6 linked regions of the Homo sapiens genome follow. The protein of the gene in region 4 purifies or fractionates together with the protein of the main gene of each other region. This does not show direct contact. Each region holds a gene or a part of one and is shown on either strand. Other genes may lie near its edges. The genes, in order: ROBO2, TXK, QSER1, IGSF3, TSPAN5 and TSPAN14.

Evidence for each region.
Region 1: the proteins of IGSF3 (region 4) and ROBO2 fractionate together in Homo sapiens (co-fractionation; one large-scale study listed by BioGRID). This does not show direct contact.
Region 2: the proteins of IGSF3 (region 4) and TXK fractionate together in Homo sapiens (co-fractionation; one large-scale study listed by BioGRID). This does not show direct contact.
Region 3: the proteins of IGSF3 (region 4) and QSER1 fractionate together in Homo sapiens (co-fractionation; one large-scale study listed by BioGRID). This does not show direct contact.
Region 5: the proteins of IGSF3 (region 4) and TSPAN5 purify together in Homo sapiens (co-immunoprecipitation; one large-scale study listed by IntAct). This does not show direct contact.
Region 6: the proteins of IGSF3 (region 4) and TSPAN14 purify together in Homo sapiens (co-immunoprecipitation; one large-scale study listed by IntAct). This does not show direct contact.

Annotation. Positions count from the first base shown.
Region 1 is NC_000003.12:77,617,099-77,620,598, reverse strand, and holds part of ROBO2 (roundabout homolog 2 isoform 23 precursor), read right to left. Parts: intron 3,087-3,500; coding exon 2,826-3,086; intron 1-2,825. UniProt on the Homo sapiens protein: Receptor for SLIT2, and probably SLIT1, which are thought to act as molecular guidance cue in cellular migration, including axonal navigation at the ventral midline of the neural tube and projection of axons to different regions during neuronal development.
Region 2 is NC_000004.12:48,124,251-48,127,750, forward strand, and holds part of TXK (tyrosine-protein kinase TXK), read right to left. Parts: intron 1-3,500. UniProt on the Homo sapiens protein: Non-receptor tyrosine kinase that plays a redundant role with ITK in regulation of the adaptive immune response. Regulates the development, function and differentiation of conventional T-cells and nonconventional NKT-cells.
Region 3 is NC_000011.10:32,899,311-32,902,810, reverse strand, and holds part of QSER1 (glutamine and serine-rich protein 1), read right to left. Parts: intron 1-3,500. UniProt on the Homo sapiens protein: Plays an essential role in the protection and maintenance of transcriptional and developmental programs.
Region 4 is NC_000001.11:116,573,908-116,577,320, reverse strand, and holds the end of IGSF3 (immunoglobulin superfamily member 3 isoform 2 precursor), read left to right. Parts: coding exon 1-9; 3' UTR 10-2,913; downstream 2,914-3,413.
Region 5 is NC_000004.12:98,473,612-98,477,111, reverse strand, and holds part of TSPAN5 (tetraspanin-5), read left to right. Parts: intron 1-651; coding exon 652-699; intron 700-806; coding exon 807-923; intron 924-3,500. UniProt on the Homo sapiens protein: Part of TspanC8 subgroup, composed of 6 members that interact with the transmembrane metalloprotease ADAM10.
Region 6 is NC_000010.11:80,460,810-80,464,309, reverse strand, and holds part of TSPAN14 (tetraspanin-14), read right to left. Parts: intron 1,223-3,500; exon of another isoform or gene 1,183-1,222; intron 1-1,182. UniProt on the Homo sapiens protein: Part of TspanC8 subgroup, composed of 6 members that interact with the transmembrane metalloprotease ADAM10.

The sequences.
Region 1 (3,500 bases), on a different chromosome or scaffold from region 4:
GGCCCCAAGTTAGTATTCAGCATTCCTCACAGCCTGCTAGTTGAAAAATAGGAAGAAATAGCAAGTTTCCTAAGTATTAGTACAGAAAAGCTTGAGGATAGATGAGCACATCTTGCTATAAATGTTGCCATCAATATGCTTATGAATTGATACCTCTTGATAAAACAAATATACCTTGATGGAATAAAAAATGTACTCCTATTTAAGCAAAATTAAGAGGTAAATTGAAATACAGGAAGAGGACACATAACATTTATAAATATCTTCTAGTGACAGGCACTGTGCTGTTTACTTCACGAATCAATAGAAACAGATCCTGGGAGGTGGAGCCTGGGAATTATTATTTGTTAAACAGTCCTATGATGTTGATGTGCTACCCAGATGGTGAGTCACTTCCAAACCAGAAGCACATGCAAGCTCATAACTCCCAGATGTGGAGTCAGCCAAGGCATTCTGAAAGATTGCTGGTTGAGTAGGAACACACTCAGAAGAAGAAACAGGGTGTCCTCTATGGGTATTTGCAGCAGGTGGAGATGAACTAATTTGTTCATTCTTTTACCAAATATCTATCAAGCATTTACTAAGTGGGACACTCTTCTAAGTGTGGGAAGACAGAAGTGAACAACTCAGGGGTGAAAACCTAGGCCTTTCTAACTAATAACAGCTAATATACAGCCAGGGACAGTAGTATATAAGTTCATACTCATTTCATTCTCACAAAAACTAGGATATGTAACAAAGAATTGAACCTCGACCCAAGAGAGGTTAGGCCTTTGCCCTCTACTCCTGGGAGGTAATCTGTAAGCCCTTAGAATGTCCTGTGGATAAAAGTCTCTCTGCTTACCTAGAGGCCTTAGGCTACTCCAAAAAGCATCGCAATATGATTATGGGGGGGCTTGGAGTTGCATGGTGTCACCTCAGCCTCTGGAGGGGCTGGAAATTGAGGTCAGCCATATGGGTAGTCAACAATGTCTGTGTGACAGAGCCAAAATGAAGTCGCAGGACCTCAAGGAAGGTGTGCCCATCCCTGGCTGGCAATTCTCCATGGTGTGTAATGTCACACCCTTTGTTGGGAAAGTAACGCTATGATTCCACTGAGAGGACAACTGGAAGCTCTACTTTTGGAATTTTCCTGGACCTTGTCCCATGCATTTCTTCTTTTGGCTGATTTTAATGCGTATCTTTTCACTGTAATAGACTGTAGCTTTGAGTGTAAAATCTTTTGGTGAGTTCTATGACTTACTATAGAGAATTCTGAAACTTCAGGGTGGTCTTGGGGACCCTTGAAACTTGTACTTGGTATCAGAAATATAGGTTGTCTTGGGGACTGCCCTCTAATTTCCTATATGAGCTAATTACTATTATCATCACCATCATTTTACACATGGGGAAACTATAGCATATAAATGTTGAGCAAGTTGCCCAAAGTCATGCAGCTAGTAAGACAGGTTCATCTCCACGGCAGTGGTCCCAACCTTGGCTGTCCCATGATCTGGATCAAATTCCAGATCATGGCAGTCAGAATCTTTCTCTGGGAGTGGAGCCCAGGTACCAATATATTTTAAGGTTATCCAAATGGTTCTAAAATGTGGCAAATTTGAGAACCCTTCAGCTTGAGTCTGTGCTTTAGATGACCAAACTGCATTGCTTCATTAGTTAACGTGAAGGAAGCCCTGTGGCTCTTGAAGCAGCTGGCTTCAACTTACATAGTGATGTTTTATTAAAAGCAGATTGATGAAAAATAACAGCGTTTAACGGTAAGTTGTCTTTGACCTTTGAGAAAGCATCTGATGACTGTTGGAAAATGTTCAAGAATATCTTAAGAAAAGAGGCTGTTTGTAATAATCTTTAAGTAATACTCTTCCTTTTGGTATCTCTTTCTATGTATAGTTAGCTGTATTTTAATAATACATACTTCATTAATAATGAGAATAAGAATTATTTATCCCCATGACTAGAACAATTTAAAAAACAAAACAAATACTATTTAAAAAATTTACTCAGACTTCAAGCACAAAGGGTAAATCAACAGAAGAAAATTGGAGTATGACATGGAGCTTTAAAATAGTGATATAAAAGCCTGGGCTTTTGAAAATTAAAATAGAAAGATTGAATAACAAAAATCCTGTATAAAACTGTTAGCGTTAGTCCCATTTATATATCTGTGTTAATTCCACAGGATACCTAGGTAAACTGACACCTGTAGTTTACAAAAGTTTATAGATTAGAAAAAGAAATGTGAAATTTTTGATTTACTCCTGCTTTTTATGCACTTACTGATACTAGTATTGTCTTTTTTTTTCTGTTGCACTTAACTCAGGTAAAGAGAGTCTTTTAATAACTAATACTGACCATATGTGATTTGCAGAAGCTCACATTTACATATTGACAACCACATACAGAATTAATCACAGGCACTTTGAGGAATCTAAAAGGAGTCTTTTATTACATCATGGGATGTGAGTTCAATGATAAGCTAATTGAAGATAAACCATAAATTAGAAAAGATTCTGGTGTAGCCAAGAGCACTTTAGCCTGAAATACAGCAGATTTGAATTCTTGCTCTAGTTCTAGTTTTAGTTCTAGTTCTAGTTACAGTTACAGTTACAGCTCCAGTTCCAGTTCTAGTTCTAGTTCTAGTTCTAGTTTTGGCCAAATTATTTAACATTTCTCAGTGGATACATTTATCTAAATGATTAAGGAGTCATACAAAATCACTTTTAACCCTAGCTGTGTAGTTCTATCAGAATCTCTTGTGAATTTATTCTGAAAAAAATTTCCATGTGTTGAAAGCATGGGTCTCTTGACTTAATGAAGATATTTACCATGTTTGTTTTGCTATATCAAACTGATAGGCTCTTGTCAACTCATCCAGGTGAGCCTGCAGCATGGGTTGCATCTCTTCCCGTGGGGATGGAGTAAGAGTTGCAGTGGACTGCTGTCCAAAGGAGATAGCAGGAGAAGAAGCCACGCCTCGAACAGGAGGTGTTGGGACCCTATCATCATCTTCTTCCAGTTCATCTTCCAGACCTTGGTGTAAGTAAGTTTGTACTGGCAATGGTGGGCACCAGCTATCACTGTCATAGCTGAAATTAAATGAGAAAAATATGCACATTGACACAAATACATATACACATACATGCACACAATTATACTGGCAATAAGTAGCAACCACATGGTATCTGAAATGTTCTCTCGGTTTATTTCTTCCTGAAGCTGTTGGTGTCACCACAGTAAATCACCTGGCTGTTATCTTAATTTCTAATTGTAATTACATCTGTTATCTCAATATCTCAATTTATTCTTAAAAGACCTTTTTAGCTAATTGTTACCCCACAGTTACAAGAGGCAATAACTTCCCAACAAACTTACTCATGTGGAAAAACCAAATTGCTAATTAAAGACAATTAATGAATTTAGTGCTTGTAGATTTAACTGCTTCCTTCTCCTGTTCATACTTGTGCACCATTACATGCCAATATCGCTGATTGATTATCTAA
Region 2 (3,500 bases), on a different chromosome or scaffold from region 4:
GCAGCAACATAACCCCCTCCCTTCTAACACCCACACCACCACCACCTTCCAATTGTGGAAACCCAAGTGTTTCCAGGCATTGCCAAATGTTCCCTGGGGGCAAAATCAACCCCAGTGGAGACACTGGACCAGATTGTAAGCTTCTCAATCTCAGGGACTGCATCTTATCCTTTTTTTTTTATTTTTAATTTTTTTTTTCTGTCTTCTCCCTAGCTTCTAGCATCAGTGCCTGGCACATAACAAAAGCTCAATAAATAACTGTTAAATAAGACCCCACCAATATCAACACCCTTACATTACATCTGAGCTCTTCTTTTTTTCCACTCATTCATCTTATCACCCAGTATTTCACAGTGTGATGCTGGCCACAGAGAAAGCTAAGCTGACCGTGACCTTTTGACTGAGTGGAACGGCAAAGGTGAAGACTGAGCTTCCGGAGCTTTAGCCAGCATTTGTGGGGGCTCATAAGTCTAACCTTTTATTCCAGACATATATTTTTAAACAAATGCTTATCCAAAATAAAGTACCAAACCATGAGATGCCAAATGAAATTATTAAAAACTCTCTGGCATTCAAATGTGTTTGTTTTTTCTTTTCTGTATTAAAAGAACATATGGGGTTCAGCAGGCTTTAGTATCAGGCAGACATGCACTCAAATCACTGTTCCCTTTTCTTGGAGCAACAATGTGATTTTGGGCAATCAAATCTAGAAAACGTAGGTAATAAAAGTTGTCTTCTAAGAAAGGGTTTCCCCACTTCTACCAACACAGCCCTTACCATATGCCAGGCATGACAGATACTTAGATCTTACTATACTACGCCATGCTAACTTACTCACTATACTAACATTATGATCCCCATCTTACACATAAAGAAACAGAGGAACAGAGAGCTTCAGCCATTTATCCAGTCACATAAAAAGCAGCTGAGCCAGAAGTCAAACCCAGAGTCCATGAGCATCACAATAGGACTATCCTTGTGGATGAGAAGATTAAATAAGATTGCAGAGGCAAACATGGCTAGAACATACCAGCTACTCTCAGTTACTTTACCACTTTGTCCCCATCCCCCAGTTCCCTAGAACTCATTCAGCAACTATTTATTGGGTACTCACAAAATACATTTAAGGTAACCAAATAGGAGCAGGTGTGGTTTTCCCTCTGAAGACAAAATGGAGGAAGAAGGCTTAGTAAACGAAAGCGAATCTTCAGCTCCAACTCCTCTCTTCTGAGCCAACTTTATCCCTGACTCAAAGGCAGATGTTTCCCCCGTTCAGGACTCCAGGAGACTCTCTCTCCCTGCTATCAAAGCAGGCCTCAGGAGAGGCTCTCACACTTTTTCTCAGTAAGGTATAAATGACAGACACAATGTTAAATAGTAAACATGCTGTACTGCAGCGCTTCAGCAATGTCATGCTTACTGCAGTGCAGAGGCGTGTACATGTTTGTAAGCATGACATTTGTAACAGTCAGGGTGAACACAGAGAGAGGTTTCTTTTAAGGAACTGGCTCAGGCAGTTGTGGAAACTGGCAAGTCCAAAATCTAACAGGGCAGGCCGGCAAGCTGAAGAATGAGAGAAGAGTTGCAGTTTGAGCCCAAAGGCGGTCTGCTGGCAAAAGTCCTCCTTGCTCAGGGGAGGTCTGACTTTCATTGATTAGGGACTTCAACTGTGGGAGAGGCCCACTCACATGATGGAGGGTGACCCACTGTACTCCAAGTCCACCGATTTAAATGTTAATCTCATCCAAAAATTACCTTCACAGAAACATCCAGAATAATGTTTGATCAAATATCTGGGCACCATGGCCAAGCCATGTTGACCCATAAAATTAACCATCACAACACATTAAATTTAAATAGTTTGACACTTGAAAAACATGGTATAAACATTTACATGAAGATTTTCTTCTGCCTCTGTCACCCCTGAGACAGAAAGACCAATCCCTCCTCTTCATCATCCTTCTCAGACTATTCAACATGAAGATGACGAGGATGAAGGCATTTATCATGAGCCACTTTCACTCCATGAATAGTAAATCTATTTTCTCTTCCTTATGACTTTCTTAAAGCATTTCTTTTCTCTAGCTTACTTTATTGTAAGAATACAGTGTATGATACACATAACATACAAAATACGTGTTGATCAACATTTATGTTATTGAGGCTTCTGGTCAATGTTAGGCTATGAGTAGTTACATTTTGGGGAACCACCTTATTCAAGTGTCAACAACTTTGTGTGTGTGTGTGGTTGTTTGTTTTGTTTTGTTTGAGATGGAGTCTTGCTCTGTCATCCAGGCTGGAGTGCAGTGGCATGATCTCGGCTCACTGCAACCTCCGCCTCCCAGGTTCAAGCGATTCTCCTGCCTCAGCCTCCCAAGTAGCTGGGACTACAGGCACACTCCACCATACCCGGCTAATTTTTTTGGTATTTTTAGTAGAGATAGGATTTCACCACATTGGCCAAGCTAGTCTCAAACTCCCAACCTCAAGTGATCCCCCTCTTTGGCCTCCCAAACTGCTGGGATTACAGGCAGGAGCCACCATGCCTGGCCAAGTCAAGAACTTTGAAAGAGAAATTGCTGTTATCAGTCAGCAGGCAGGAGTATCTGGGACTAGAGAAATGCCTCCCCCAGCTCCCTGACCTCACAACACATGGCCACACCTGATAATATTCCCCTTAGTTGTCTTCACTGTCTTCTGCAGCCTGGAATTTAGGAGAAAATATTTTCAAAAATTCTTATGTTTCCTGATTCAATAGCAAAGACAATGGCCTTTAAAGAAAGATACAGACCTACCCTACCACTGCTTTAATTATGACCCAATTTTATTTAATTTCCCTCAAAGTCCAAGAACAGTGGTGAGCAGGAAGGCAAACCACTGCTTTGTTTGTGGTTCCATCCTCTGCCCAGCAGAGTTGCTGCCCAATAAATAATCATTGCGAGAAGAAAAATCACACTATGAAAGCCAAACAGCTCCCTGGTGTTCCCTTGCTTGGCATGACTTTCCAAGACAGCAGGCATCTTTATTTACAGGTTGAAGTGTTGGGCCAAAATTCATTCCAATGCAGGTATCAAGGAGTATTCATTTCATGATCATTTTCAATTTACAGCAGCACAGGTGTTCCCAGTAAGTAAATAGACAGCGCCCTTCCACAGGCATTCTGTGATTACAGAAGCCATTCTTTGAATTGTTTTGCCGATTAACCTGCAGAGGGAAAGCTCTTGAGCTTTTAGCAAATTCCCAACTTAGGCAGGAACTCATGCATATCAAGGGCCTTTGCCAGAGTGACAAAAATGCCCCAGAGATAGGCAATGACTATTTGCCTGCTGGAAGGAAATGTGGAAAGAATATATTCGGGCTTGAAGATTATCACTGAAGGAGCTGAGCTTCCTCTCCCAGGCTTACATCTGCGCTGTTCTTTTCATCTACTTCTCATTCCTCAGTAAATATCTCTAATGATGAGCCTCAGGCCAGCAAATCAGAAAAAGGGCATCGCATCA
Region 3 (3,500 bases), on a different chromosome or scaffold from region 4:
TGAGATAACACTATAAAATTATTAGGCCAGTGCTCAGCACATAGTAGGCATGTAATAGACACTATCACCTACAATGGCAAAGGCTCAGTTCTCAGCCCTTCATTCTTCACCCTCAAAGACCTTAATCTCTGAGATTCCACTATTGTCTCTATACACATGTCCAGTCAGACTCCTAAACTCACCTGTCTGGTCTTGTCAGCTAAGGAAAAATACTTTGGGGAAAACAGAAGCGTTGGAACAAAGGAAACCTGGTGGGACTTTAGATCTGGTGCTCAAGGAAGTTCTTTGCGAAGAGATGATATTTAAGGAGATAAGAATGTCAAGAAGCCAACACTGACAAGATCCAGGTCAGTGGTTCTCAAAATCTCCTCACTGGACAAGCAGCATAAGAATCACCTACAAACTTGTTAGAAATGCAAATTCTTGAGCTCCACCCAAGACCTATGGATTCAGAAACTCTGGAGTTGGGCCCAGCAACCTGTGTTTCAACAAGCCCTCTGGGTGGTTCTGAAGTACCACTGAGCTACAGCAAGATCCTGCCAGGGAAGGGAACTGCCAGGCTTGTTCCTGCCTTGCGACATTTGCACTTGCTGCTTCCTCAGATCTCAGGGAAGTGCACTTCCTCTAGGAGAAAATTTTCTCAATAATTTGCCTGCCCGACTCCTTCACCCAAGAATGTAAACTCCACAAGAACAGAGATTTTATGTGGATTTTTTTGTTGTGTTTTTGAGACAGGTCTCACTCCCTATGCCCACACTGGAGTGCAGTGGCACAATCATGGCTGACTGCAGCCTCCACCTCCCAGGCTCAAGCGATCCTCCCACCTCAGCCTTCTAAGTAGCTGGGACCACAGGCGCATGCCACCATGCCAGGCTAATTTTTGTATTTTTGTGGAGACGGGGTTTCACCATGTTGCCCAGGCTGGTCTCAAACTCCTGAGCTCAAGCCATCAGCCCATCTCAGCATCCCAAAGTGCTGGGATTATGGGCACAAGCCACCACGCCTGGCCATTCCCTATCCTTTAGAGTGGAGAGACTAAACTCCATGATCTGTCATCAGAAGCCCTCTAAAATCTAGTACCAACGCTCTGTGGTACAGTGTTACTCTGGTGAGCTCCCCAATGAACCACACCTTTGTGTAGTTTCCCTCCCATGACAATTCTGCAATGGACCAGGGACTGCTTTGACCAACAGACTGGCAGAAGTGATGCTGTGCCAGTTCAAGGCCCAGCCCTTAACTGGCCTAGCAGATTCCATTTCCTCCCTCTTAGAACACTTATTCTTAGGAGCTCCTTCTTTGTACTAATCCCTTATTCCACTATGCAACATTAGCAATAATTCAGATCAGTTTGTATGCAATCTACTTGACAAATGCTACCATGATCCCCTTGAACTCAATATAATTTTCCCCACTAAGTCCCTGAATTATTTTTGTACCTCTGGAATAGTCTGGCAAGTATTAATAGCAGTTATTTCATTCATTCATTGAATGTTTAATGGCACAATGCATCAGACATTTTTCTCAGTGCTGACAATAAAGTTAATAATCTATATGCTATCCTATATGCTAGACATCACTCTAAATACTTTTCTAAGTTTTTCCATTTAATCTTCAAGAATTCTAAGTGTCCTCATTTTACATAAGGAAACTGAGGCACAGAGAGGTTAAGAAACTTGTCTAAGATCATACTGCAAGTGGTGGAGTCAAAATACAAACTCAAACATTATAACTCCAGAGCTTATGCTATCAACTACTATACTAACCTGCCTTGTACAGATGTGAACAAGACAAAGAGCCCTGTTCTCATGGAACATGCATTCTATCAGTGATGGTTAGTGGTATCGGGAAAGGGTGGTAATAAACGATACATATAAATCAACAAAATTACTCCAGAGAGTGAGAATGCTCTGAAGAGGTAAAACTGTCATGTGTCAGTGATGTGCAGTTACTTTAGACAGGGCAGTCAGAGAAGGCCTTTCTGAGAAGGTAACATGTGGGGAAAGACCTAACAATCAGCAAAAGCAGAAGCAGCAAAGCAAAGACCTGCAAAGAAAACTTCAGTTAAAGAGAATAGCCGGTGCAAAAGTCCTAAGACACAAATAATCTTAGCATGTTTCAGGAACAGAAGTAAAGCCAGTATGGCTGAAGGATGGTGGTGGGAGGGGAATGACATGAGGTTGGAGAAATTAGCTGAGGCTTAGATCATGCAGGGCTTTGTAGGCCACGATAAGTCATTCGATTTTTTTTTTTTTAAGATGGAGTCTTGCTCTGTCACCTAGGCTGGAGTGCAGTGGTGTGATCTCAGCTCACTGCAGTCTCCGCCTCCTGAGTTCCAGCTATTCTCCTGCCTCAGCCTCCCGAGTAGCTGGGACTACAGGCACCTGCCACCATGCCCAGCTGATTTTTGTATTTTTAGTAGAGACAGGGTTTTGCCATGTTGGCCAGGCTGGTTTTGAACTCCTGGCCTCAAGTGATCCTGCCTCAGTCTCCCAAAGTGCTGGGATTACAGGTATGAGTCACCACACCTGACCAAGTCATTGGATTTTACTGATTAACACTGGAAGGTTCTAAGCAGGGTAATGACATTACCTGACCTATACTTTTGAAAAGTTAATTCTGGCTGTTGCATACTTAATAAATTACAGAAGGCCTAAAAGGAGGCAAGAAAAGCAACAGGAGGCAACTGCAATTATCCATGCAGGAAATTATGGATATGGAGATTGAACCAACAGGATTTGCTGAGGGACTCAATATGGGAAGGAATGAAATGAATCATGGATGGCTCTAACCTTCTGGACATAAGCAATGGAGTAAATGGTGATAATAATTACTGAGGTGGGGAAGGCTAGAGGAGGCCCAGGTTGAGAGGGTGACAATCATGTTTTGGATATGTCATTTTGGAAATACCTATTCAATATTCAAATGAAGATGTCAGATGCTAGATATGAATCCAGAGATGTAAATTTGAAAGTCATCTCACATATATGGCAACTACACCTAGGGTCAGTGGAGAGAAAAGAAAAAAGGACAGAACTCCAAGTTTCTGAGCACTTCAACATTTAGAAGCCAAGCAGAGAGGAAGCAAGTGCATTACCCTCTCACCCTCCAGATCACAAGTTCTTTCAGAGGCAAGACAGTGTTTTTTTTTTCATTTTTGTGGCACCCTGCAGAACTCAGCTGAGAAACAGAAACTGAGAGATGGCCACTACATTTTAATGAGTGATTGCATGCTTGTCACTTGATTTCTCAAGCTTTCACTGCAGAAATATAACTCAAGGAGATACAGGTAACACTGCCTTAACAATTGCAGGTACTCAAATATTTGTTTAATGAATAAAAGAAAACTGTGTTTTGGTAGACATACTTTAGTACTCATTGTTCCAGAGAACATACCAAGGAAAGGAAGAAACAAGTAGTAGCCCATATCCCCACCCTGCTAACCAAAGATAATCACAAACTTACCCTTCATCTTGGTCCCAACTACAGGGTAGAGGGGGAAT
Region 4 (3,413 bases):
ATAGACTAAGCGGGTGATGCCCCAGCGGATGTTGGCCACGGAGGAGCTGAGGCTCTCCCTTTCTCTGTGATTGGACAGTTGACAGCACCCAAACTCTGGGGTGCATGTGTGTGGAAAGTTGTCAGACTTGAAAAGTGTTCCAAGTTCCCAGTCAGTCACAGAGACAGACTGCCTCTCGGTGGCAGTCTTGGTTGGTTAGCTATTTGCGCGCAAATGTTGTGATCCTGCCATTATAGATTTCTTGTTTCTGTTTTTAGTAATGTAGTGAGTAGCTCCAGGTGCCACATCTACTCACAGATTTATCTAGTATTCTCAGATAGATGTTACAGGGCTTCTTATTCTTTGTAATGTACTCTTTTTAAATCCCTTTAGTTTACCCTTTTTGGATTCCTTAATGTGGACGAATTTCTCTTACGTACAACTGACAGCAAAAGGAAGGGCGAACTTTCTAGTGACAAGGAATCTCTTCCAAGACTTTGTTTTTGCACATTTGAAAATGCCACCCATGGATCAAAATATACCCAAACGTTTTTTACTTTCTTAACAAGACTTAAGAATTGTGTGTAGTGTGGGCAAAATTTGTATGTTGTCTTTTCCCTCAGCTGGAGTTATTGGAACCACTTTGTAGTCAAGACGAAAGCACTGAATTTTGCTTCAAAGAACTGTGTATGTACAAGAGAAATCCTGCATAACCCCATTAGGAGTAGATGGTGCCCGGCCTATCTGTCAGGGAGGCAAAAAAGGCTTCATCCCATCCTTGCCAAAAAATAAGAAAACTGTCTTGGAGAATGGGTCAGAAGCCCCAAACGGCACACACTTTCCAAATTAAAGTGGGCAGGGGCTGCTTTTAGCAGCTGCTGACCTGCAGATTTGTCAAAGCCAGTGACTAGAGAAGGAAGGGAGAAAGGCTGGCTGTTGGCTTGCTCTGAGCTGCAAGGATGGTCTCTAACTGATTAACTGTGAGCAGGTGGGCCTGTGTCTTCAGGTGCTTTGCCAAACTCTTAAAAGAAAGTGTCCAGTGAACTTGGAAGTGGGCCCCTGAGCTGAGCACAGGGCCAAAGCAGCCATGGCAGACACCTGACGGAGGGCACGGGGCTGGCTGACACTAAGTTTGGTGGGACAGTGAGGGGTGGGAGGGGGGTTTCCAGGGCCTGGTGTTGGAGAGTGCAGAGAAATATCTACCTCCCTGGAGGTGTGAAGACTAGGTTTTTCTTCTTCCTTCCAATTAGATTTTCCTTAATTATAGTGATGTCTTCCTTATTCATTTTTCTCTCCCTGCCTCTCACTGCCATAAGAATATCAGCCTGGGGGCAGTCCAGACGCAGCCCTTTGTCATCCTTTCTGTTTGCCTAGTCTCAGCAGACTGTGATCACAAGGCATTGTCTGTGGGATTTTTCCTTTCCCTTTCTTGATCTCTCTTGTGGTTCTAGGTTGTTTGGTTGTTCATTGTTATGGTGGCTTTTTATTTTAACGCCCCTTGAGCCCCATGATGGCTGGTGTCACCCTGTTCTTTTACACTGTTGGGCCAGGTGCTGCTTGTCCTTCTTAGGGCATCATCAATTGCAAATATTTCCTTTTGCTCCCTTTATGAAGATGTTCTTATACCCTTGCTTTCCCATATTTTTCTGGCCAAGCATGCCATCTCCTTTACTCTGGGAACTTACATCCTGAATCCCAAGAGGGGGTCACAGTTTGGAAAAAGTCATCAGGGATTCTGGAACTAAGTCTGATAAAAGATTCCAGTGAAGCCCTGTTCTGAGAACGAGCAGACTGCAGGGGAGGCCATGGGATTCCCCAGGCCAGTGTCTGTGCTGATCCTTCAAGGGTCTGCAGGTATGCAGGTGGCCTGGGCTGCTCGGCAGATACTTTGCTGATTCCCAGCTGAGGGGAGCATGGTGGCGATTGCTCAGCCATTTTCTGACAGACACACAGACCTGCCTTTTCTCCCCCAAGTATACCGTACCCTCCTGTGAGACAGTGTGTGCAGGCACCACCACCTTAATCCTGCTGTTGCCTGACATGCTGATTCTCATTTATTATGCTGCATCAACACATTAGAGGTACAGGAGCGGCTCAGTCATGAAAAAAGAAGGTCTTTTGCCCCATTTCTTTATTTCAGAGATGTGGGCTTTCAGTGGGAATTTGCTGACTCCTACTTTATAGGCTGAGTCAATGAGGGAAGATGACTGGCGTTTCCTCTGTCTAAATGGGAGGTTGCCAGAGCGCTGGCTGGGACTAGGATGTGTAACTAAGATTTCAGTTTGAAATCTTAGATTTCAGTTCACGGCGATAAAGAAGTAGGTGCTGCACACAAATATGTAAAGCAATTGTAGGAAATTTGAAAGGAAAAAAAGAAACCGAAGCCAGTATTTTAATAATTGCTTTTTCTGTGTATTTTGTATTGGGCTGGGGGATAGCATCAAAGGTTGAACTTTTTGAGCTTTCTATGAAAAACCCCAGGACCTTCTTTCTTTGGCCATTTCTATGGAAATGCGATGTCAGATGGATGGTAATGGTGCCCTCCAGTGGCTGTGAGACCTCATTGCGCATTGTCTACTGGAGCTTTAGTCTTCTGAGACGGAGGAAAACTGCTGAATACTCTGGATTCATCTATGTCTACAATGTTGCATTTATGAAAAACTACACTGTGCTAGGCGCATTCTAGGACATGAATATGACCACACCCTCTTTCACCGGGTGTTTCTGTAGCAAGTTTTCATATTCTTTTCAAACAATGGTTTCTCTGCGTTAATTATTGAGGAAAAAAAAAGATGGGGTAAGAAAACTACCCATGCATGATGTAGAGAGCTGTTGATTTGTTTCTGTTTTTTTAAAGGAAAACTATTTGTAAGATGTTGCACTAAAACATTTTATATACACTTCAGAGACCTGTAGTAAATTATGTTGAAAATACGGCTGTTTACATTTACTGCAGTCTTCTATCCTTCTTTCCCCTTACTAACCAGCCCCCTTCCTCTGTGGAACTGTGCTGTGGGAGCCTACAGTTCTGCCCTTGGCATTGGCCTGCTAGGCTCAAGGTCTGTGAATTGCAGTCTTTATTATTACACCCCATAACCTTCAAATGATAAAAACACCTCTTCCTCAAGACACTTCACTGCCATCTGCTGCAACATATAGTAAATAGACACCTCCACCCCGATGATCAAGGCTATGCTACCTCTAGAGCTGTGCAACACACAACACACCTAGCCCCTGAAAGCCAGGTTCAGAATGTAGATCTTATAACCTGTAGCGTTTTTGTTGGGGGGTGGGGTGGGGGTAGAAGCCGGATGAGAAGGAGAGCAGGAACACAGGATGGCCTTCTCTAGGGCCTCTGCGGCAAGTCCACACCATCCTTTTCCAACTATGAAGTGCTGCCCTGGCCATGAAATGCAGCGGGGATTTCCCAGAAT
Region 5 (3,500 bases), on a different chromosome or scaffold from region 4:
ATGCTTCCCCTTTCACCTACAGATCCTCTGGGCAGAGCTAGCTCATTCCTTGCGCTCTAAGCTAATAAAATCTGCCCCACACCCCGCAGAGAAGGAAAATAAACAACCCGAAAAAGTGGAACCATGTTTCTGATCAGACCCTGTGAGACGTCAGGTTGTCTGTGTGATTATGTGGTCGGGGCATTGTTTTGTTTTTTAATTATTAAAAGCTCATTGAAAAACAATTTAAGTAACATGGAAGTACATAGATTAAAAAGTAGCAGTCCATCCAAAAGAGCATACATGAAGATTCACTGTGCCCTTTATGTTTTTTATCTGTGTCTCCAGTTCCCTAAATCCCATAAGCTTCTTGAGGTTGGCACCACTTTGAATCTTGAGCCTCCTGTGTGATAGACTTGCTGTCTTTTCTGATATTCCCCAAGCCTTAGTTTTCCTTATTTGTAAAATAGGGCATATTTTAATACCTACTTCTGAAGATTGTCGCAATAATGACATGGGATCATGTATATAAAGTGTTTAACATAGTGCTGCAGTCTTTGTGCCCAGATACACATTTTATTACTAATGCGTAACAGAAGTCTTCTGCTCATTTCTAGGTGGGCTTTCTGTCTAATGAGTAAATTTCACTTTTCTCTTTCCTTTCTTCACCAGGAAGATGTCATCAACACTCAGTGTGGCTATGATGCCAGGCAAAAACCAGTAAGTGGAATCTCATGTTGTTGCTTAGCACGAAGGGTGTTGGAGGAGCTTTGGCCTGTGCCTGGTGCTCTATCTGTGACAATGTGCTCTCCTCTTCTCTTGTGAAGGAAGTTGACCAGCAGATTGTAATCTACACGAAAGGCTGTGTGCCCCAGTTTGAGAAGTGGTTGCAGGACAATTTAACCATCGTTGCTGGTATTTTCATAGGCATTGCATTGCTGCAGGTAAGATAAGGGTCCTTTATGGATATCACAGGGAAATAATGCCCTGGGAGAGCCCTTGCCAGGATCGGAGCTTTGCTTAAAAACCTTGATTGTCATAGTTTTTAAGACACATTGGAGGGCTGAGGAACAGACCTAAACGATTTGGTTTGTGTTTTATTTTATTCATTTATTTATTTATTTTATTTATTAATTTTTTTTTGAGATGGAGTCTTGCTCTGTCGCCCAGGCTAGAGTGCAGTGGCATGATCTTGGCTCACTGAAAGCTCCGCCTCTTGGGTTCATGCCATTCTCCTGCCTCAGCCTCCCGAGTAGCTGGGACTACAGGTGCCCGCCACTACGCCCGGCTAATTTTTTTGTATTTTTAATAGAGACGGGGTTTCACCGTGTTAGCTAGGATGGTCTCGATCTCCTGACCTCGTGATCCGCCCATCTCGGCCTCCCAAAGTGCTGGGATTACAGGAGTGATCCACCGTGCCTGGCCTGATTTGTGTTTTATTAAAGCTCTGAGTTTAGATGCTACTATCATGAAATACTTTAGGAAACCTTGTCTTTTTCTAAGATGGAGACATTAATTAGATAGTGGTTGCCTACTGGCATTCCATCGTTTACATGGGCTCAAAAATACTGCATTGTGGCAACTGAGTCAAACATGCATAGTTAGAAGTAGATCTCAGTGGTGACGTTAAGGTTTTGGGAAGTTTCACAGAGATGTCATACCCCTTTCTCTCCCTAAACTACCTTGCCAAAGTGCTAGTGAAGGAAGGGAGCACCCACTTTTCCTCCTGGCCAGTCTTAAGAGCTGGACTCTTCATGTTGTTGGTGTGATACTTTCCAAAGAGCACATAGTTGAAACAAATTAAAGAAGACCTAAGTAAATATAAAGATATCCTGTGTTCACAATTGCAAAACTTCATATTATTAAGGTAACAACACTCATCAAGTTGATCTACAGATTCAGTGTAATCCCTATCAAAATTGTAACCACCTTTTTAGCAAAAATGGACAAGCTGATCCTAAAATTCATATGGAAAAGCAAGGGACCCATAATAGCCAAAACAAATTTGCAAAAGTAAAACAAAGTTGGAGAATTCACACTACCCAGTTCAAAACTTAGTACAAAGCTATATAGTAATCAACATAGTGTGTACTTGAGTAAGATTAGCCATATAGAGAAGTGGAATAAAATTGAAAAATCAAGAAATAAAACCAGGCCAGGTGTGGTAGCTCATGGATGTAATCCCAGCACTTTGAGAGACCAAGGCAGGAGGATGGCTTGAGCCCAGGAGTTCAAGACCAGCCTGAGCAACATAGCAAGTCCTTGTCTCTACAAAAAGTAAAAATAAAAAAATTAGCCAAATGTAATGGCACATGCCTGTGGTCCTAGCTACTCAGCAGGCTGAAGTGGGAGGATTGCTTGAGCCCAGAAGGTTGAAGCTGCAGTGAGTCGTGATTATGCAACTGCACTCTAACCTGGGTGACAGAGCAAGACCTTGTCTCAAAAAAATAAGAAAAAAATATATATGATTAAAAAGAAGAAATAAGGCCGGGTGCAGTGGCTCATGCCTGTAATTCCAGAACTTTGGGAGGCTGAGTCAGGTGGATCACTTGAGCTCAGGAGTTTCAAAACAGCCTGGGCAACATGACAAAACCCTGTCTCTACAAAATATACAAAAGTTAGCTGGGCATGATGGCGCATGCCTGTGGTCCCAGCTACTTGGGGGGCTGAGGAGGGAGGATCACTTGAGCCTGGGAGGTTGCAGTGAGCTGAGATCATGCCATTGCACTCCAGCCTGGGTGACAGAGCAAGATCCTATCTCAAAAAAGAAGATGAAATAAGCTCGTACGTATATGGTCAGTTGATTTTTGACAAGGGAACCAAAACCATTCAATAGGGAAAGAGCAGTCATTTCAACAAATGGTACTGGGAAAACTAGATATGCAAAATAATGAATTTAGACTAACTCACACCATATGTAAAAATTAACTCAAAATAAAGCAAAGACCTAAATATAAGAGCTAATGCTATAGAACTCCAGAAGAAAACATAGGCATAAATATTTGTGACTTTGGATTAAGCAGTGTCTTCTTAGATATGACATCAAAAGCATAAGCAATGAAACAAATGTAAATAAATTGGACTTCAAAATTTAAAACTGTGCTGAAAATGATACCATCAAGACAGTGAAAAGATAACTCCTAGTATCTAGAAAAATAAAGAACTTTAAAAAGTCAACAATAAAAAGACAAACAACTTAAAAATGGGCAGCCAGGCATGGTGACTTGTCCCTGTAATCCCAGCTGCTTGGGAAGCAGAGGCAGGAGCCTGCACTGAGCTATGATCACGCCACTGTACTCCAGCCTGGGCAACAGAGCAAAACCCAGTCCCTTAAATTATTAAAAAACAAACAAACAAACAAAAATACGGGCAGAGGATCTGAACAGACATTTCTCTAAAGATTAAAATTGCTAATAAAGGCCGAGGCGGGTGGATCATGAGGTCAGGAGATCGAGACCATCCTGGCTAACAAGGTGAAACCCCGTCTCTACTAAAAATACAAAAAATTAGCCGGGCGCGGT
Region 6 (3,500 bases), on a different chromosome or scaffold from region 4:
GGCTTTTAAAATCACAGGGTGGCAACCAGGCCCAAGGCGGCCTGAACAGGGAGGTGTGCAGAGCAGCGAAAGGCCAAGGGAGGCCAGAGAAGGAGGCCGATCCTCACACCAACCCCTGACACTGCGGGAAAATCTGCTCCTCTAAAAGCTGACGCCAGCTCCAGCTTGCTGCAACCAACGCTCCCCCTTCACACCCCACATAGGTCCTGCAAAGTCGTGAGGTTGCTGGAACCCACTATGAGAAGCCTGCTCCCCGCCTCCCTACACCCCAACTCGCTCTGGCTGACTCCTCACACTTTTAGGGGCACAGGCTGCATGAGCCAGAGGGCCAGCCAAGGGCTGTAAATATGGAGGTCACGGAGACAGGCTGGCCTGAACTGAACCAAAGATGGACTTGGGTGGGAACCAACACGCTGGCACCTCTCATGCCTTCCCAGTAGTTTCTCCAGCTCTTGTCTCTGTAGAAGGCCAAGATCCCTCCAAAAGAAAACTTTGTAAACTTTCATTCCCCCTTTCGGAATCAAAGCCGCATGTTTCTTTTCCTTTTACACACCTAATGCAGTAACTCCACATCTAGTCATTTCCACTACAGACCTGCAGCATGCATAAGACACTCCTGCAGCTTAGCCTATAGAAACAAAACACTGAAAGCAACCTCAAAATCCATCAATAGAGAGCTGGTAAAGTGAGTCATCATTCACTGTGCAGCAGAATCATGCACTGCTGTTAAAAAGAATGGACTAAACTATGTGTGCTAAAATGGAACAATCCTGGGATAAATTCTCAGAGTAAAAATCAGGAAGTGCAAAACAGCATAATTAGTATACCACTGGGGTAATAAACAAGAGAGGAATACAGTCATGCTTGACTAGGCACTGAACATCTGGTGACAGCGGCCTCAGGGGAGCAGAACTGAAGGGGTCAGGGATAGAAATAGGAGTTTTCACCGTGTATCTTTGTTATGTGTTTTTCATCATGTATACATTTTTGTAAATAAAAATGTTAAACCTAAATTAATATTTAAAATGCCTAAAGTTTGTGGCTGGACACACAATTTTACCCGTAGCTGTCTGCAGGCAGCTTCTGGTGTTTCCCTAGAACAAGGCAGAGTAATGGGGAGGGGAAACGAAACAAGGGGAAGGAGGGGGTCAGGCAGTGGCAGCCTCAGGGATACAGACTCACCAACTCACAGGGCTCCCTGCTTTCGACTCCACCCCAAGTCCTGAAATAGAAAGTTTTCCTAAGAAGAGCAAGAACAGATTCTGACAAAGGCACAAAAGAAACCAGACCATCTGCTGCCAAGCCCACTTCATGATAAATCTGTAAGACCCTAAGATTCAGGCAATGTAGGCGATGCAGGAGACGGGACTGAAACCCAGGCATCCCGGGCATCCACAGGGACCCTTCTCTGAGCCCTCCCCACTCAGTCATCAGTGGAGCTCGAGGTCCTAGTGCTATGAACACATCCCAGTTTCAGCAACTAAAGAAAGCTATTTCAACAGATTTCTAGGCCTGGCCCAATTCCAAGGACAGGCTAAAAACAGTTTCTCCAAAATCCCAGCTCAAAACCCCATTCCCTAACCACTAAACTCCATGTACCTTCCAGGAAATGGAAGCTGCAAAATGGAGCTGTGAGATGCACTTGTAGATTTATTCCTCACTAAAGAGATACATATATGTTGTTTAAAAGCTTCCTTTAACTGACGTGTCAATAAATACTCTGCACTCAGAAGCACTGATATACTTCCTCCAAGTGATTTTTCCCCCTAAGGAACAATACAAAAACCATTCCAGCCTTTCCTGCTGCTGAGGGGAATGACACAATGACCATTAGAACCAGGACTGGCCAGACCATTTGAGTGAGAGATGTGTATGGCAGGGAGTGCTGCATAAACAGAACTCTATCTATGTAGAATAACTCCTCCACCCCACCCCACCCCATCCCATCCCATCCCACCCCATTCCTACGCCCTAGGCCACCAGGGCGGACAGAAATAAACACCTCCTAATGACCTCAAGCTCAAAGACCGCCCAGACCACAGGGAAAGAAGGCCAGAGAGGGGGAATGGGTATATTTGGTTCCCCTTACAGAATAAGATGCTTTCTGAAGACTGCTAAATATGTTCAATAAGTAGCCCCTGAATTAAGAAGCACAAATCAAGTGCCCAGGAGTTTGACACCAGCCTAGGCAACATAGCAAGATCCAATCTCTACAAAAAATTCTTTAAATTAGCTGGGTGTGGTGCTGCATGCCTGTGGTCCCTGCTACTCAGGAGGCTGAGGCGGGAGGATCACTTGAGCCAGGAAGGTGGAGGCCTCAGTGAGCTGTGATAGGGCCACTGCACTCCAGCCTGGGCAACAGAGTGAGACCCTGTCTGAAGGAAAAAAAAAAAAGGCACAAATGAGATCTCACAACAGTGAGAACCATACTGGCACCTGAAGCCCTCGTATCTCTTTCTGCTCCTCTCGGTGGCTCAGTGCAAGCCCTCAGCAGGTCTTGCCTGTAATCCCACAATCCTCTGTGAAACCAAGACCAGCCCCTCTCCAACCGTCTTTCTGCAGGAGTGAGCAGAGCCCAACCCAGGCACTAATCTTCAACACACCAAATCCTGGCACCTGCCTTTGCCACCTCATCAGTCATGCCATGGAGGGGAGCGTCAGGGCTACCCTACACCAGAGGAGCCCTCAACTAAACCTGCCCGCCCCACCCCATCCTGGGCACATGCCACTTGTTCCTCTTTGCTCACACACTTAGCACCCCAGAGCCCTTGGGAATGAATCCCCCACCACTACCACCAACTCTGATTTTGGCATGCCCCCCTCAAAAACCTATCCACGTTTATACCATCACTTGTATTTCACAAGAAGCTACTAGAGTTACAAAACACAATGACTGTGGTAGGCAGGATGGCTGCAGAGAGCAGGGTTCTGGCACCACCACTGTTCCACTGCAAGGGTGGAAGCTGGCTACAGAGCCTTTAGGAAGGAGGGAAGGCCCCATCCACAGCCGACAGGTTTTCCTTACAACAGCAAGGGCCTGGTTCCTGAAAAGCTGACTGTTGAGACAAGATCAGCCTCAAGAAAAGGAGGCAGGCCAAACAGGGTCACCTGTGCAGGGTAGGCTGGAGGGAGCCGGCCCTCAAGAGAGGCAGAGTCTGATCAAGTAGACAGGAGGGCCAGAGAGAAAAGGAGGAGCCTCACTCATGGAGGAGGAACAAGGTAGGCTGGAGGCAGGGACTTGTAGGCCTCAGACAGAAGGAAGCTGGTGAAGCTCCCATAGGCAAAATGCCCAGGAGCTCCGGCTAGAAGGCAGCAGGAGTGTGCAGTCCAGGCAAGAGGAAGAGATCCCCCACAGCACCTCCCTCTGCCCAGCTCAGACAAATGGGACAGTCAATCCCCAGGCTGATGGAGGCGGGAGCGAGAACCACAAAGTTGTCAGACTGGTTTGCCCAGGACAGGGAGAGCAGGGAACACAAATTGCAGCAGGAGCTCAGCTTCAG